Regions from separate parts of the Homo sapiens genome. Here region 1 is linked to region 2. A link means that fine-mapping ties the variant in region 2 to the expression of a gene that starts in the linked region. Tissue or cell type: whole blood. Region 2 holds a variant in brackets; the other region holds the start of a gene. All regions are shown on one strand. Distances are between the middles of the regions. Region 1 holds the start of INTS7 (integrator complex subunit 7). Region 2 overlaps DTL (denticleless E3 ubiquitin protein ligase adapter).

Region 1 (9,133 bases), 29 kb after region 2:
TCATCTCACTTCATCTCTTCATGTTGTAGGTATTATATCATCTCACATCATCATGAGAAGGGCAAGTATATAGCACCATGAGATATTCCGAGAGGCCACCTTCACATAACTTTTATTACAGAATATCGTTATAATTGTTCTATGTTATTATTAGTTATTGTTAATCTCTTACTGTGCCTAAACTTAATCATAGGTATGTGTCTGTATAGTAAAAAACACAGCATACATAGGGTTGGGTCTTGGAACATATCCTTCAAGGATAAGGAGGTACTACTGTACTCAACTACGATATACAGTCATATGCCATGTAATGGCATTTTGGCCAAAGACAGACCGCATACACAATGGTAGTCTTACAACATTATAATGGAGCTTAAAAATTCCTATTGTGTCTTAGTTTTTAACAAAAGGTTTGAAAAGTTAAGAAAAGAAAAACATTTAAAATAAAAAAACTTATAGAATAAGAATATGAAGAAATAAAATATTTTGTACAATTATACAATGTGTCTGTGCTTTATGCTACCTGTTACCACAAGGGTCAAAAAGTTAAAAAATTTAAGATGTTTGTAAGTTTAAAAGTTACAGTAAGCTAAGGTTAATTTATTATTGAAGAAAGTATTTTTTAATCAATTTAATGCAGCCTAAGTATAGAGTGTTTATAAAGTCTACAGTAGTATAATGTCCCAGGTCTTCGTGCTGACTGACTACTCACTCACTGATTCACTCACAGCAACCCCCAGTCCTGCAAGCTCCCATTCATAGTAAGCACCCTCCACAGGTGTTACCATTTTTTATCTTTTATATCCTATTTTTACTGAACCTTTTCTATGTTTAAATACACAAATACTTACCATTGTGTTACAGTTGCCTACGGTATTCAATACAGTAATATGCTACACAGGTTTATAGCCTAGGAAAAATATATAGCTTAGGTGTGTAGTAGTTACACTATCTAGCTTTGTGTTTATACTCTGTGATGTTTGCACAATGATAAAATCACCTAATGATGCATTTCTCAAAATGTTATCTCCATTTATAAGCAATTGGATGACTATATACGCATTTCTAAAACTCACCTGTCTGAAAAACCTGATGTCTCTGAGAAGGTTGAGGTACCACTTTTTCCCTTTCCCTTCATCACTTCCTTTCTTCCACTTTATAAAAGAAAGGCATTCCCGTGCCCCAATCTTAAACCTTGCACTGATCCAAAGAATAAAAACTTTTGGGTATCAAATATTTTTAAATAAAAACAAATAAACTGGTGGAACCTTAACTAAGAGATAATTAAATAATTCCTTCAATAAAGGGACCATAAACACCCAAATTCATCTCTTTAAAAAGATGGACTTCCAATAAAATTTTACTTTTGGTTAATAATTATCAAAATTGGTAATCTATATTGTTTTAATCAATCATATAGTACTAATAATTGAATTGAAAATTCAATCCATAAAGAAGTTTTAATACTTGGAGGCTTATGACAGAAAACAGCAATTTAAACACATTTTTTGACACAGAAGGGTATGACAGAGTGATCAGTAAAAGAGCTTTTCAAGCATAAAATTAAATTACATTAGGAGAAATTCTGTAGGAGAAATGAAATGGAAATAAATTCAAGAGGAAAAAGCAGCTATATGGAATGTCCAGCAGATAAAGAGGAGTTTGTATTTTTCTAAAAAATGGATGATGTGATTATCAAATCACTATAGTATTTAAATTATATTAGATACACTTAAAGGAGTGATATAGCATTTTTATTTTTAAAATGTCAATATTCCCAATATGGTCAGAAATTATATTCTTTGCATTTGTTTAAGTTTATAATAAAAACTTTTAGATATCAATTTAAAAATACACAGAAGAGTAATCAGATTTCCATTTTAGAAGGATCATTAGCAGCAATGTGGAGAATAAACCGAAGACAGACAAACTAGGAGGCCATCTGGGAGACTTCTTACAATCCAGACAAGAAGGCATTAGGGCCCAACCTAGGGAAATGGAATAGTAAAAATAGAACACATCCAGCATACAGTAAAGATGCATAATCATAACAGATAAAGAAGAGAGGATGGATTCAAGAGATTTTAACGAAATGTTTTGAATGTGTAACTGTGAGGAAGATGAAGAAGTCTTTAATTTACTCAGGTTTCTGGCAGGTTTAAATAATGAGGCCACTCTCTAAAATTGGTAATATTGCAGGTTTGGGGGAAAAGCTGAGTTCAGTTTTGGGTATTTGAGTTTGAGATGCTTGTGGGATTGACCGTCTAGGTGCTAATCAACCCACACAGCTTTTATAGAAATGAATCTCAGGTACAGGAAGTCTTCCAATAACATAATTTTGTACAATGTCATTTCGTTATACTGTTCATGAGGAAAAAATCAATTCCTGTTTGAGGCCATTGGCCGTGTGGAGTTTGTACATGCTCTTCCCATGTTCATAGGGGTTTTCTCCAGGTACTCTGGTTTCCTCCCACATGCCAAAGATGTGTATGTTAGGTTCACTGGTGTGTCTACATGGTCCCAGTAGACAATGAGTGTGTGTGAGTGCTTCCTGTGATGAAATAGTGTCTGGTCTAGAGCTGGTTTCCACCTTGTACCATGAGCTGCCAGGATAGGCTCCGGGCACCCACAGCCCTGAGCTGGAATAAGTGTGTCAGAAAATGAATGAATACAAATCATTGTAAAATAAAAATGGGTAAACTTTACAATAATCATACAAATGAATGACAATAAACGATTTGGTATGAAAGGGCTCAGTGAGCTGCCATATTTGTGATTGTTTTTGACCTGGGTGGTGGTAGGAGGTGCTCCTTCCAATTTTCACTTTGCAAACATTTATTCCTTGATTTAGCCCACCACCACTATGACCGAGGTCACTCGCTGATACACCAAAACTTGGATAATTATCTCACCTGTTTTTATTAATCTTTCTCAAATATATGTATAGCACACAATTATTTCAACATTTAATATTAAAAGTACTTTGAGTCTTTCTTTAGAAGTTCGGTGGTGTTTGTGTGACCAAAATATGCCACTGAAACAATTCTTATTTATATCAAGTAGCCTATGGTAGAGTTAGTTTAGTTATACACTGTTTTCCCTAAAGTCACAGTTTCCAAGAGCCTATCTAGACATTAAGTGAGGACTTACTATATAAGTAACAGAAGGTTGTATGTATGTAGAAGTGGAAGAAGCCCTGGTTGTGGCTGTGATCATCCAAAGGAGTAGGTAGAAGAAGAAAAGGGGTCAAGGATGGAACACCAACACTGAAGAGGAAAGGAGATGATTCTATAGATTTCATATAATAACGAATGAATTTCAGTGACTATTATGTAACAACGAATGAGTACTTGAGAATAGGAAAGAGGGAAGGGAAAGGTAAACACATGGAGAATTAGGAGAAAATCTGTCACAAAATAGAGGCTGAACAGCTCCCCCAGAACACACATATAGTAAGGTGTGGAAGTATAATAAAACCCAGGCAGTTTAACTTCAAAGACAGAGTTCTTAGCCACTGTGCGTACTGTCACTCTTAAACAGAGGACAAAGAAGTTACTCAAACAAGGTCCCAGGAGAGACAGAAAGAGGAGCATTTAAGTATAATTACAAAGATTATCTAAGAGGGAAATAAATAAGGATGGTATAAAGTTTCAGACTGCTAGCAGGAAGTTGAGGGACTACTTCTCAGTCTCTTTCTCAATATTATTTTCCTAGACTCATCGCTGAATATAAAAATTCCCTTCTCAGGTTCGTTTTCCACATAGTTTCAAGGGGAAAAAGAACCTCTGGCTATAGTCGACCTTCACATGAGTGAGATTTTATTTCTGTCCAAGGTTAATCTGGGTAGTTAGCTCCCTTATCTGAAACTTACCAAAAAGTTTAAGTTGATGACATCCAAATCTAACCTCAAATCTCTTATTGCCAATGTTTTAGCGTAAGAAAATAAGTTAGATTTCTACGTATTAACATGGGAATACGTTCAACTTATACCATTAAAGTGAAAAAACTGGACGTTTTGATCCGATTTCTGAAAATAATAGGTATTACCTCTAGCGTCGAAAACATCTGGAATAATATACTTCAATCTATTAACAGGGGTCATCTCTGGCGGATGTGGTTACAGGCATCTTTCACTCTATAATTTAAATTTTTATGACCGTGTAGTAAACGGGGAAAATAAGATTTTGTTCCTGTTAGAAGCAGATATCCTGTCTTCTCTGCTTGACTGAGTTCCTTAACAGCGGGTCATATTCACTGGTATATACCTATAGCACATAGCTGGGCTCACTAAGATTCTACAACAAACGAATGAATTAATCAATGATTAGGAGTTTTGAGCATCTCAAATAACCGTTGAAGGAAACATATACACACAAATGCATGCATTTTCCCGTTAACGCGCAATGGAGATGTAAGCTGTAAGGGGCCTTGGAAGGCAGTTATTTCGACGTCCCTGCCTACGTTACGATTTTAAAAGCCCGATTACGATTACAAGTGTCCCGAGGGGATGAAAGTACAGCTTTCTTTAGTAGTCCCTGCTAACACTAATTTACCCTTGCCATGGGAGAACTCAGAAGCTGAGTTCAGAATTGGAGTCGGCCCTGGTCGGAGGTGGCGTGTGTTTCGGGGGAAATGAATTCCGCCAGCTCCGAGCAGCGGTTGGGACCGTTACTCACCATTTCTCAGGACGCCAAGCTGGGGCTGGCGGAGCACCGAATTGAAGAGCATCAGGGTCGGAGGAAAAGCCTCAGCTGAGAGAAAAGTCGTAGAAATGCCTCCAAGTTCAGCAGAAATCGCAGCTTGCGCCTCTCACAACACAAATCGTTATCGCCTCCAACTCCCGCCACTGTAAGCCCCGGCCGCCAAACTCCGCGCCAAACTGACGTCACGCTCTCTGATTGGCTTCCGAGCGACGTCCGGGCGCCTCAGAGTCATTTCCCCCTTCGGATCCCCGCCTCCTTTTCTCCCAGCCGCGGGAACCTGGAGTCCAAGAGCTCCTTGAGCGCCTGCGCAGGGGGTAGCAGAGGCGCGGACAAACCGCGGGGTGACCAGGGCGCATGCGTAACAGGGCTTGACAGCGCGCGGAAGAAAAACCAGCAAGAAGGCGGCGGGGGAAGATGGCGGTCCTGGGGTAGAGTTTGCAAGCTTTCTGACTAGGCTAGTCGAGTAACTATTCGGGTCATGGCGTCAAACTCAACTAAGTCTTTCCTGGCAGATGCCGGCTATGGCGAACAGGAACTGGATGCCAACTCTGCCCTTATGGAATTGGACAAAGGTATTCGAAAGAGAGGGCTGAATGGGTGAAACAGGCGTGGGGGGAAGTGGCGCCACCAGGTGGTGGTTGCTTTGGGAGAAGACGGATAGGCGCATGCGCATGTCTTCGCTGGGCGGGGAGCGCCTGTGCTTTTGCTGGGGCGTGGGCTTTGACCCCTTCGGGAGGTTGCGGGAAATTTGCAGGATTGTGTGACTGGCCTTATACCGGCTAAACAAGTAGCGAGCTCTAGTGAGAGGCCCGTTTTGACCACTTGAGGGAGCAGTCCCCCGATTTTCTAAGCAGTGACAGTGGCTAGTTTCTAAGAGACACTGCAAAGAAATTGTGAAATTGGTTTTCAGTCTGTTCAGTTGAGACCAGGTCTTCATGAAATGTGCTGAATAGTAATCTTGCACCGACTTGACAGCGATTCATTTGATTTCCATAGCTCTGTTACCTGCGGGTTACAAGGCAGGCTAAACCTGGCCAAGACCATAAAAAAGCAAGGGCCCTGCTCATTCTCTGCGGACAAGTTCCAGGAGTTCTGTTGCCGTACAGGGAGCAGCTTGGTGTAGAGGGAGCTTTGGGGTTACACTGAGTTAAGTTTCAATGCCGCTGATTTTATGATTAACTTCATCTAGCCTCGGCTTGTCGTCTGCAAAGTGGGTACAGTACCATTGAGCCGGCAGAATTGTATTAAGTGACTTAATGGTATGCAAAAGAAGCATTTAGTAAATGCTGAAGAGATATACCTCCCTTCTTAGATGTGGATATGGGAGGCAAGGTCGGAAATTTGTTAGTAAAGAACTCGACTAGTAATATGAAACCTTTATTTCATATTGAGGATTTTTATTGTACGGGAAACATTTCGGCAGCTGGTATACAATTAAATCTTGATTAATCGTAGCCAATATATAATGTTGGAGAACTGGACTAGAACTCAGAAGGGTTTGAGCCACTTCCCAGTTTTCTGAGTTGGACATGTCTATTAACTTTTTTGGGACTCTTTTTCTGTTTATTTTTTAAACTGTGAATATTTTTAGTGGGTTAGTCTAAATAAGAGTTTCTCAGGCTCTTAAAAAAGCTTTTACCTTATTTTGATAAACACAAAAATTTCACAGCCCCCTAATGGGATATTCCTTTGGTTGAGTCTCAGTATCTTTAGTGCACCCCCATCAACCAAGAAAATTATGTTGAACTTTTCCTTCTCTTACCAAATCTTTAGGGGTTTTCTCCTCTGAAAAAAAAAAGTATAATACTAAATGTGTTTTTCTCTTTTTTTTTGGAGACAGAGTGTTGCTCTGTTGCCCAGGCTAGAGTGCAGTGGCGCCATCTCGGCTCACTGCAACCTCCGCCTCCCGAGTTCAAACGGTTCTCCTGCCTCAGCCTCCCGAGTAGCTGGAATTACAGGCGCCCGCCACCACGCCCGGCTAATTTTTGTATTTTTAGTATAGACGGGGTTTCACCATGTTGGCCAGGCTGGTCTCCAACTCCTGACCTCAGGTGATCCGTCCGCCTCGGCCTTCCAAAGTGCTGGGATTTACAGGCATGAGCCACCGCGCCCGGCCTTAAATGTGTTTTTCAAACACTTTCCTCCTCATTCTGATACATTTCTTTCTTATTCCTCAGTGAAAGTTACAGGTCAGGATAATATCTAATATCCCTACGAGTTCTAAGGACATTTTCTACCATTCTGGTGCAGCTGAGCTTGTCTCATGCTGACAATAGGATAGTGGTTGTGGAACAGGGATAAAGATGGGGCACTGAAGAGGAGTCTAGAATGGTTTAATTCCTCAAATTTTGCAGTTGTAAGAAAAAAACCACAATTTTTCCTTTTTAAAGAAGAGTTGAAATGAAAATATTTTATATCTATAGGAAAGAAATCAGGTGTCAATCTTAGACACAGAGTAAGTGATCATTTGCACTCCTCCCAGCAATGCCTGGCGTGAGTGTTTTACAGGTGAATCTCAGGCTCAGAAAGATGACTTGTTCTTTTTCATCTCATCTGTAGTAACTTTTAAAGCTGTTAGGAAATTAAGTTATAGAAATAGCCAGTTTCGTGTAGAATATAGTTGAGTATTTTAAATATTGAGTCATTTCATCTTGTACCTGTTAAAGTATTTCTGTTTTGTGAGCTAAAGGTCAGAAGGCTACAAGTTCCAACTCTTTTTTTCGTTCCCAAACTCCAAGGAATACTGTTTCTGAAATATCTCCCCCACCTCAGCATACACACTCAGACACATGACTTATTTGATCGGGCTTTGTACTAGGAACATGGCAGTTAATGAGACAAAACTCCTGCCCCTATAGAGCTTACATTCTAGACAGCAGATGCAGACACTCCGCAAATATAGCAAACGTGACAGTTAGTGATACATATTATAAAGGAAAATGAAGCAATGAAAGGGACTGGAGAAAACTGATCTGGGGCTGGAGTTGATTTCTTATTTTATGAAGTATAGGCAAGAAAGACCTCCTCAATCAAGTGGAAGAACAGCAAGTACAAAGGCCCTGAGGTAGAAGCCTCCTTTGCATGCAGTTATCTGGAGCAAAGTAATAGGCAATGAGTATAGAAAGATAACCAGAGTCAGTCGGGCGTGGTGGTTCACGCCTGTAATCCCCGCACTTTGGGAAGCTGAGGCGGGCGGATCACGAAGTCAGGAGATCGAGACCATCCTGGCTAACATGGTGAAACCCTGTCTCTACTAAACAAAATACAAAAAATTAGCCAGGCGTGGTGGTGGGCACCTGTAGTTCCAGCTACTTGGGAGGCTGAGGCAGGAGAATGGCGTGAACCTGGGAGGCGGGGCTTCCAGTGAGCCGAGATCACACCACTGCACTCCAGTCTGGGCAACAGAGCAAGACTGTCTCGAAAAAAAAAAAAGAAAGATAACCAGAGTCCCGTTCAGGTAGGGCCGTGCAAGCCATCAAAAGGACTGGCTTTCATTCTGAGTGAGAAAGGAAACCATGGAGGATTTTCAGCAGGTGTGTGACATGATCTGACTTTCCTTTGAAAAGTATCAGTCTGGCTACTGTGCTGAGAATAGACTGAAGTGGGGAGGGTCAGGGACCCAAGTAGGGAGACCAATGAGAAGGCAACTATAACAATCCAGGGAAAAGAAAATAGTGGCTTAGACCGAGATGGTGACACTGAAAATGTGTGAAGTGCTGAGATTCTGGATATACTTTCAAAGTAGAGCCAAGAAGATTTGCTAATGGATTAGATGAGGATATAAGAGTAAGTGGTCAAGAAAACTTAGAGGTTTTTGGTATGAGCTACTGGGAGGATGTATGTATTGTTTACTGAAATCAAATCAGTTTGGGTCATGTTAAATTTGAGATGTCTCTTAGACATCCAAATGGAGATGATTAGTCAGTTAGGCATAAGATGTAACCTTTGAACGCTATTTTAAAGAAATATTTTGTGGCACTGGTGTCCTTAGAAACACACTCAGGAAATGCTGCCATTCATAACCTGTTATATATTTATAACTGTTGTACTTTATTCTGAGCCTTTTGAGCAAGCATTGGCAGTAAGCTGATTGTTTCTGATCTCTATAGGAATAAGTGAATACTATTTTGAAGCTGACTCAATTCCATTACTTTAGGATGTAGTTAGTAACAGGAAAATCATCCTTCATGTGATAGCCATTCATTTACTCAACAGATATTTACTGACCACCTGCATTGTCTCAGGCTCTATACTCAGACTAGGGGCTATGTTGGCAAACAAGACATCTTTAAGGAGATTGCATACAAATGTAAGGAGATGGACAATGCTAGATCAAATGTGGTGCCGTTAGTCAGGACAAGAAGTTGGATTTTGTGCAGAGTGCAATGGGAAGGCATTGAAAGTTGTAGGCTGATGGCCATGCTGCTTGA
Region 2 (9,133 bases):
GATTCCATTAAGGAAAATAGCAAAAGAAACACCTCTTCCCTTTTCTAAATACTATTGCTCCTGTTTAGAGAAAACTAGACCCAGTGCAAAGTATCAGAAATGCAGACTATGATGCTGCCACCGATACTAAAGTCCTAATAAGATTGCTTGGGGTGATCTTTGGAAAATTCTGTAAGATCTCAGCTAAAATGACAAGTTCTGGGCCGGGCATGGTGGCTCACGCCTGTAATCCCAGCACTTTGGGAGGCTGAGGTGGGTGGATCATGAGGTCAGGAGTTCGAGACCAGCCTGACCAACAAGGTGAAACCCTGCCTTTACTAAAAATACAAAAATTAGCCAGGCATGGTGGCGGGCGCCTGTAATCCCAGCTACTTGGGAGGCTGAGGCAGGAGAATTGCTTGAACCCAGGAGGCGGAGGGTGCAGTGAGCCGAGATCGAACCACTGCACTCCAGCCTGGGCAACAGAGTGAAACTCCGTCTCAAAAAAAAAAAAAAATTTATATCTATATCTACATCTATCTATAAATAAAATAAAACAAGTTCTGTACTTGAGATTTCTTGTTTATCAGCACTTTTTACTTTAGTGGAAACTGGGTAACTCTGAGGATTGGTTATGGAATTCAAAGTGTTTTTGAAAGATCTATAGATGAGGAATAACCAGGCTACTAAGATGTTGCTTAAGAAATTGATGTTCTTAAAAATAATGTAACCCAAATAACTCTCTTAAAGCATGCCTGAGGCTGGTGATTTGGAAGAGGGAGGGGAGAGGATTAAAAAAAAGAGGAAAGCATGCTTGAGAAACTTGGGTTTTCTTTTTAAAACTATCATTTATTTATTAGTTTTAAGTATCAGATTCTATTTTTAAAGTTTTGAGGAAAAAAAAAAGGTGAGGCTGGGGAAAACATCTAGAAATAAAAGGGCCTCTAACATTAAGGAGAAGGCTGAGATAGGCTGAAACTATTTTGGGGGTATGAAAATTTCAGCCCCCTAATTTTAACCAGCAGCCCCTAAAGAGGAAAAAAGCTGAGCAGAAGCACTTTATCTACTCCACAGCTTATTAAATAAAAAATTGAGAGAATTCTAAATATAGGCCAAAGGGCATAATTTCAGGAGATACTCTCTATTAAAATAAAGTCACCATGTAAAGCACAATTCAGCTAACTTATGAAATCATCACAAGGAATGTACACTTATGAAATTATCACTGGATGTAATCAAAGATGCCAAAGTCCTCATATGGCTTAATAAGTTCAGTTTAGAAGAAAGCCCATTAAATTATCATTACCAAAAAAAGCCCATAATGCTTTCCTGGTAAGAGAATTTGAATGACTAATATCTTACCTGGAGAAGTCTTCAACCCAGTCATATTAAACATGTAGATGTTATCGTCTGTGCAATTAGCAAATAAAGTAGAGCCAGTGGAATCCAAAATCAGACTTGAATATCCTGGAAAAAGGAAACTTAAGTTAGCACGTCCTGATGATGGTGAGTAGATCTGAGGTTAAAATGTAGAGACAAAAATAGATCATTTCATAAGAATCATCATCAGAATTCTTTGTCCCCAAAATATACACAAACCAAAAACATTCTTCTGAGTTTTTATCTTTTGAACTTCACATATTAGAATTTTTCATATCAATGTTACTGGAAATTAGCCTTTTTTTTTTTTTTTAAACAAAAACTCTTATCTCCCCCAAAAGACCTATTAAAGGCTTACCAAGTTTTCGAGTGCTGCTACCTGGGTACAGGAAAGACTTGGATGCTATGGGTTCTTGTCGATAAGCAGTATAATTCTTACGTAAATCCCATACTTTGATTATCCTAAAAACCAAGGCAAATAAATATTTTGTAGACCTTCTTCCAACCCCAAACAACTTCAACTACACTAAATGTGAAATGACTTTTAATCTAACTCCTCTGGCACATTAACTAGGTACAGTAAGGATATTTCATTGGGAAACAAATTAAAGTATCTTATACTGTTGTCTCCAATATCAGGCTTATAATTCTGACAGAACGGAAACAGATGTGATTTGACCCAGTGATGGGTTACTGGAGTTTACTCTAAGAGAACGGAAAAGGAAGATGAAGGTTGAGTGCCGATAGTAATTGTTCCATTGTTTTTAGAAAATACACTTCCTAAGCCTTTAATATTCTGCATATATTTTTGATATCATAAGTAGCAAGTTCTGTCCCTGTGGTTATATCTCCATACATAACTCTTTAAATAATCTAAACAAATTGTTCTGTGAAATAAAGTATTTTTTCATTTCATCTATTGAGATAATTGTCTTAATCCTCTACTTCTAGTATAAAGGTAACTTGAAAACACAGACCTGCTATGAAATGACAGTATTCTTGGAAACAAACAGAGCAAGCTTTCACAGTCATTCACAAGCAGAACTAATAACCTTTAGATAATCCTTCATTCCTGCCTGAGAATTTGGTTCAGAGGGTTTTAGTGCCCAGAGGACACAATGGAAATCCTAGTTTGGTAAGCCATCATCTTTTAAATTAAAAATTTTAAGAGAAGGATGCCTTGAGAGATATAATAGGAAGGAAACTTAAAAAGAAAGAGTCTCCATTTGCATAGAATTAATATTCTACAACACAATCAACAAGCATCACAGAGCAGACTTATTTGGAAGCCAAGAATTCAGACTAATCATGGATGACAGGTATGTGAAAGTCATTAGACCTTACTATCATCAATCTAGTTAGATTACTCCCAGAAATGTCAATTACATCCCCAGAATCAGATTTCTTCTTTTAGGATATTCTTAAACCTGAAAAAGACAAAACCCAAAGTAACAGAAATTTTACTCTTCAAAATGAGAATTAGTGACTAAATTATATTGCATAAGGCAAGCAAGCTACCCAGCCAGCTTCTTTTCTAAGATAGCAACAGCAGCTACCACTGCTCTTATGTGCTAGACAATGTGCTAAGCGTGACACATGTATTCTTTCATTTAATTATCCAGCAAGAGTCCTTCAACTAGGTATTTTCCAATGTGATCTATAGCTCCTTTCCTCAGTTGGGGTACTTGCTATGTTGACAGTTGAAAGCACACACATTCAATTATAATGAGACTATGTGACTGCCTCATCACAATCTCATAAAAAAGATCTCGTCGGAAGAAAAAAGAAATAGACTCTTACCCATCCACAGCTCCTGCTGAGACTAAGGTATTCTCGTCTTGAAAGAGGACCACAGTAACACTTTGCTGGAAATCCTGATAGCACAAGAAAAGAAGAAGATTCTATCTTGGGCATCATAATCTTTACCATCAAGGGAACAAGGTGCTAAAAAACGACTTTTCTCCCCAGACTGACTTAGATGAAGTCTTGTCTAATGATCTCGATCAGATATATATGCTGACCAAGAGGTAATTTTAGCAAGGATCATTAAGTTTTAGTATACAGTGTTAATATTTCAACTTATACTCAAAAAACAAACTGGTGACTAAAAGATTTTGCTCGTCTGAGCCTACTGCATCTACTTAGACTCAGCCCTACTAATATGCTGTGTGTATCCTTAGGAAACTTATTTAACTTTCTTGTGCCAGTTTAATCTCTAAAATGTTGCTGTCTACCTAGATTATCATATAGGAGTATCAAAAGAATTATGAATAAAAGATTATTTCATGCCCTGAAAAAGAGGCCCAGTGGAGTCGTACCTCCTAATTGCTATTACTTAACAAGTTATCTTGGCTCAGAACCAGATTAAATGTCTGAAATGCTACTCGTTTTAACTTCATATGGCCTCTACTATCTGCTTCCATTCATGCTTGTGTCCTGTTCACGGTGTATAGTTTTAAGTCTTAATGTCTTAGCAGTCATACTTCCCCCAAAATATTAACTTGTACCCTACACACCAGGAATATGAAAAAAAAATTACATTAAAGTGAGAAAAAGGGCAATTTTTTAAAGAAAAAGGATATATTATGGGCATTGTTTGAGCTCTGACTGTAAGTTATTAGAGTGGTACTATGTTCTACCCATGTGTTTCTCAATATATTTAACAATATTTTGTCAAATGCTTAAAAATAAGCTGGCCAGGCGTGGTGGCTCACATCGGTAATCCCAGCACTTTGGGAGGCTCACGAGGTCAGGAGATTGAGGCTATCCTGGCTAACACGGTGAAACCCCGTCTCTACTAAAAAAACAAAAAATTAGCTGGGCGTGGTGGTGGGCACCTGTAGTCCCAGCTACTTGGGAGGCTGAGGCAGGAGAATGGTGTGAACCTGGGAGGCGGTGCTTGCAGTGAGCCAAGATTGCGCCACTGCACTCCAGCCTGGGTGACAGAGCGAGACTCTGTCTCAAAACAAAAAACATATTTTTCTGTAGTTTGTATTACGAAAACAACAGGTATTCTTTCCCCTTAGAAAACTGCATCACAGTACTTAATATGCTTCTTCAAACTACTCCTCCCCCACTTTTCCTAATGAATTCCACTATACTATAGGGGTGTGTTTGTGTGTGTGTGTTTGTGTCTGTGTGTGTAGAGAGATTTTTAGGGATGAGTAAGGTGAATTTTCAACATGTGCCTCAGGCAACTCTGATGCACACAGTATTTGAAGTGATGGCTATCTCAATTACCCTGATTTGATCATTATACATAGTGTACCCCCCAAAATATGTAAAATTATGTTATCAATTTTTTAAAATGTAGATATTGAAATTGTAAAAAAAAAAACCACTTTCTGCTTAATGGCATGAGACAACATCTTATGTTTAATTCAATCTAATTCTTTAAAACCAAAATAAATTTAAAGATATTTATCAACGAGGCTACATATATTTTAATTCCATCAATAATATAGGTAAATGGCATTATAATTCAGAAGAACCAAAAATTAAAATTTGAGAACCACAAATGTAGGTACTGAATAAGCAATAAACCACTGATATCAAATGAGAATCATGAAGATTCTCATTCACTTAATCAATAGCCTCCCATTTATTCTATCCTACAGATAAGATCTGCACACATGTATACATCTGTAAAACCTTACCACAGAAGGAGCAAGTCCTTTTGAATTCTGTTTCTTCTTGGGTTTTGAAGGGGTTTGCTTGTCTGAGGTATTGTGAGCTCCACTGATTTGATTCACTTGCCTATAAAACCCATCTGAAAGATATTCCAAGGAAATTTAGGTTTCAGGATTCTTACATGCTGAATATAACATGTGTAAATAAAACTTCAATATTAAGTAATTTTTGACCAAGTTGGTGAAATTAGAAGCCAGCAGAGCCAGCTGCACTACATCTCCTGTGGTGAGACTATAATGTATAAAAAGGGAGAGATGTTTATAACAGCTTTAATAATTGCCAAAACTTGGAAACAACCAAGATGTCCTTCAGTAGGTGAATGGATAAACTTTGGTTCATCCAGACAATGGAATATTATTCAGCACTGGAAAGAAATGAGCTTGATAAAGCCATAAAATGACATGGAGGAAATGTGACTGGGGGAAGTAATAAGATCAGTGGTTGCCAGGGCTTAGAGGGAGGTAGGGATGAATAACTGGAGCACAGAGGATTTCTAGAGTAGTGAAACTATTGTGTATGATGCTACAATGGTGGACGCA[C/T]GTCATTACACATTTGTCAATATCCACAGAATGTGTAATACTAAGAATATATAACACTGATGTAAATTATAAACTCTGAGTGACAGCATGTGTTGACATAGGTTAACTGATTATAACAAATGTACCACTCAGGCACAGGATGTTGTCAGTGGGGAAGTCTGTGTGTGGGCAGGGCAGGGGCTATATGGGAACTCTCTGTACTTTCTGCTCAGTTTTGCTGTGAACCTAAAACTGCTCTACAAAATAAGGTTTATTAAAATTTTTCTAAATAATTTTATTATTTATTTCAAAATAGCTAGAAGAATGGGAGGCTGAGGCAGGCAGATTGCCTGAGGTCAGGAGTTCCAGATCAGCCTGGCCAACATGGTGAAATCCTGTCTGTACTAAAAATACATAACTAGCTGGGAGTGGTGGCATGCACCTGTAATCCCAGCTACTTGAGAGGCTGAGGTAGGAGAATTACTTGAACCCAGGAGGCGGAGGTTGCAGCGAGATGAGATCACGCCACTGCACTCCAGCCTGGGTGACAGAGTGAGACTCCGTCTCCAAAAAAAAAAAAAACAAGAAACAAAAAACCAGAAGAGAAGAATTGTAATGTTCCCAACACAAAGAAAAGATAAATGTTTGAGGTGATGGATATCCCAATTATCCTGATTTGATCATTTCATGTTCTATATATGTATCAAGATATCACATATACCCCTGAAAATATGTAGAACTATGTTACCAATTTTTTAAAATGCAGACACAAAAAAAAATTTTAATAAATTAACTAAAAGTGAACAGTGAGATAATCATCGTCTGCTTAATAGCATCATGAGACAACCATGAGCTTATGTTTAATTCAATCTAATTCTTTAAAATCAGGCTGGGCCTGGTGACTCACGCCTGTAATTTCAGCACTTTGGGAGGCCAGGGTGGGCAGATCACTTGAGGTCAGGAGTTTGAGACCAGCCTGGCCAACATAGTGAAACCCCATTTCTATTAAAAAAATACAAAAATTAGCCAGGCATGGTGGCGGGTGGCTGTAATCCCAGCTACTCAGGAGGCTGAGCTAGAGGAATTGCTGGAACCCAGCGGGTGGGGAGTGCAGTGAGCCAAGTTCACGCCACTGCACTCCAGCCTGGGTGACAGAGACTCCATCTCAAAAAAAAAAAAAATAATAATAATAAAATAAAAAAAATTCTTAAAAACCAAAATAAAGACATTTACCAGTGAGGCTGCGTATTAATATTTTTAAGTCCATCAATAATGTGGGTAAATGGCATTATAATTCAGAAGACAATATGAGATAAATACATGAGTGTAATACTTGTAACAGTGACACTCATGTATTTATCACTCAGGACACTCAGTGAAGATCCTGAGATCTGGAACAGTGAGCAGAAATGGGAAATTATGAGTACATGCCCCCTGGTGGTAATCAGATGAAATCACTAACTCTTTCACTCAAAATTAAGTACAGGGTAATCCCAAATCTCTCAAAATTAAAATAGATCTAGATAACCTTTTTTGTTGCACCTGGTATCCCAGACCATAATGTTGCCATCTCTTCCACCCGTACAGAATACAGCTGTGGGGAAATAAACAGATTATTAAGAGGTTAACAAAACCAGTCAATGACACATATATTTCAGTTTACATTTTGTAGACTATCTATTATGTGCTAGGTACTGTATCTGTCACTGGAGATCAAACATTTAAAAATATATGGCTCAATAACAAATAGGAAAAAGGATTATGAAGAGCTTGAGATGCTAATGTTGAACCAAAACTTCATAGAATCACCCCTCTGTAAATTTTTTAAAACCCATATAAAATATATAGTACAGTTGTAATAAGAATAACAATCAAGAGTCAAAATACAGAGTGCTTCTTATTCTAAATGTTAGCTACTATCCCGCGTGTTTTATAAAAATTATCTCAATCCTTGCTATCAACCTTATTAGGTAAGTACCAAGAGAGGCACAGAGAGGATAAGTAACTTGTAAAGGTATTCCTGGCAGTATGAATCCAGAGCTTACACTCCAAACCTCTAAACTGTATTGGCTCAGTATAAAAATATGGACCAGATCCATATGAAGTTTGTTAAAGAGGTTGCCTGGGATGCAATGGGATTGGAAAAGGCACTATAGGAGAACTTCAATTTATCTGTAATGTTTTATTCTTTAAAATTAAGCCAGAAAAAAACCCTGCTTCCTGTGTGAAAGAGTGAGCACTTAAACTAATCCACTTGCATTAGTTGTACATGGGATAAAACACAAAAACAGCTACCTGAGGGCTCTGTGGAAACTGAATGAAAACATGCAATTTTTCTTACTGATACATAGTATTTTACATATTTATGGGGTATATGTGATATTTTGATGCCTGCATAGAATGTGTTATGATCAAGTCAGGGTATCTGGGGTATCCATCACCTTGTATTCATCATTTCTATGTGCTGGGAACATTTTAAGTTCTCTCTTCTAGCTGCTTGAAATATACAATAATTTGTAAGGTGACAATAGTCAGGTATCGAACAATGGAACTTACACCTTCTATCTAACTTTATGCTTGTATCCATCAAGCAACCTTTCTTCATTCCCCCCTCACACCCACTCACTTTCCAGCCTCTGGTTATTTATCATTCTACTCTCTACCTCCATGATACTGTTTTAGCACCCACATATAAATGGGAACATGTGAAATTTATCTTTTGTGCCTGGCTTGTTTAACATAATGTTGATGTGAATGACATTTCCTTATGGCCAAATAGTATTCAATTGTGTATATACTACATTTTTAAAAACTCTATTTGTTCGTTAATAGACAGGTTGATTCCATATCTTGGCTATTGTGAATAGTGCTGCAACAATGTGACTGCAGTTATTCCTTTGATATACTGTTTGTCTTTGAATCAATACCCAATAATGAGACTGCTAGATCAATGGTAATTCTATTTGTTTTTTTTTTTTTGAGAAATCTTACTGTTTTCCATAGTGACTGGACTAATTTACATTTCCACCAACAGTGTACAAGAGTTCTCTTTTCTCCACATCCTTGCCAGCATGTTTTGTTTAATAATAGCCATTCTAACTGGGTTAAGATGATATCTCACTGTGGTTATTAGTCATGTTGAGCAGTTTTTCACATACCTGTTGGCCATTTGTATGTCTTCTTTCGCGAAATGTCTATTCATGGTCTTTGCCTACTTTTTTTTTTTTTTTGAGACAGGATCTCACTCTATCACTCAGGCTGGAGTACAGCGATGTAATCACCGCTCAGGGCTCAGTGATCCTCTCATCTCAGCCCCACCAAGTAGCTGGGACTACAGTAGTACACCACCATGCCCAGTTAATTTTTTTGTATTTCTTTGTAGAGACAGTTTTGGCACATTGCCCAGTCTGTGTTTGCCTACTTTTTAATATTTTGTCTTTTCTACTGTTGAGTTGTTCGAGTTCCTTGTATACATTCTACATATTATTCCCTTATCAGATAAATAGTTTGCAAATACTTCCCATTCAAAAAGTTTTGGCATGCAGAAGCTTTTTAGTTTAGTATAG

What was found.
Region 1: INTS7 starts here. The variant in region 2 is fine-mapped to the expression of INTS7 in whole blood (TOPMed, PIP 0.97).

What each region holds. Positions count from the first base shown.
Region 1 is chr1:212,031,486-212,040,618 of GRCh38, reverse strand. INTS7 (integrator complex subunit 7) reads left to right here and starts at 5,062. Exons shown (of 20, transcript NM_015434.4): 1 at 5,062-5,275. The coding sequence starts at 5,182. DTL (denticleless E3 ubiquitin protein ligase adapter) reads right to left here and starts at 4,871. Exons shown (of 15, transcript NM_016448.4): 1 at 4,677-4,871. The coding sequence starts at 4,728. RefSeq lists enhancers at 4,052-4,586, 4,602-4,841, 4,587-5,123, 5,002-5,211.
Region 2 is chr1:212,060,912-212,070,044 of GRCh38, reverse strand. DTL (denticleless E3 ubiquitin protein ligase adapter) reads right to left here. Exons shown (of 15, transcript NM_016448.4): 6 at 7,096-7,161; 7 at 5,016-5,128; 8 at 3,160-3,233; 9 at 1,718-1,821; 10 at 1,342-1,446. Among named protein-coding and RNA genes, the nearest start is that of MIR3122, 12 kb to the left of the region's middle. The variant C/T (reference allele first, on the strand shown) is at 5,589.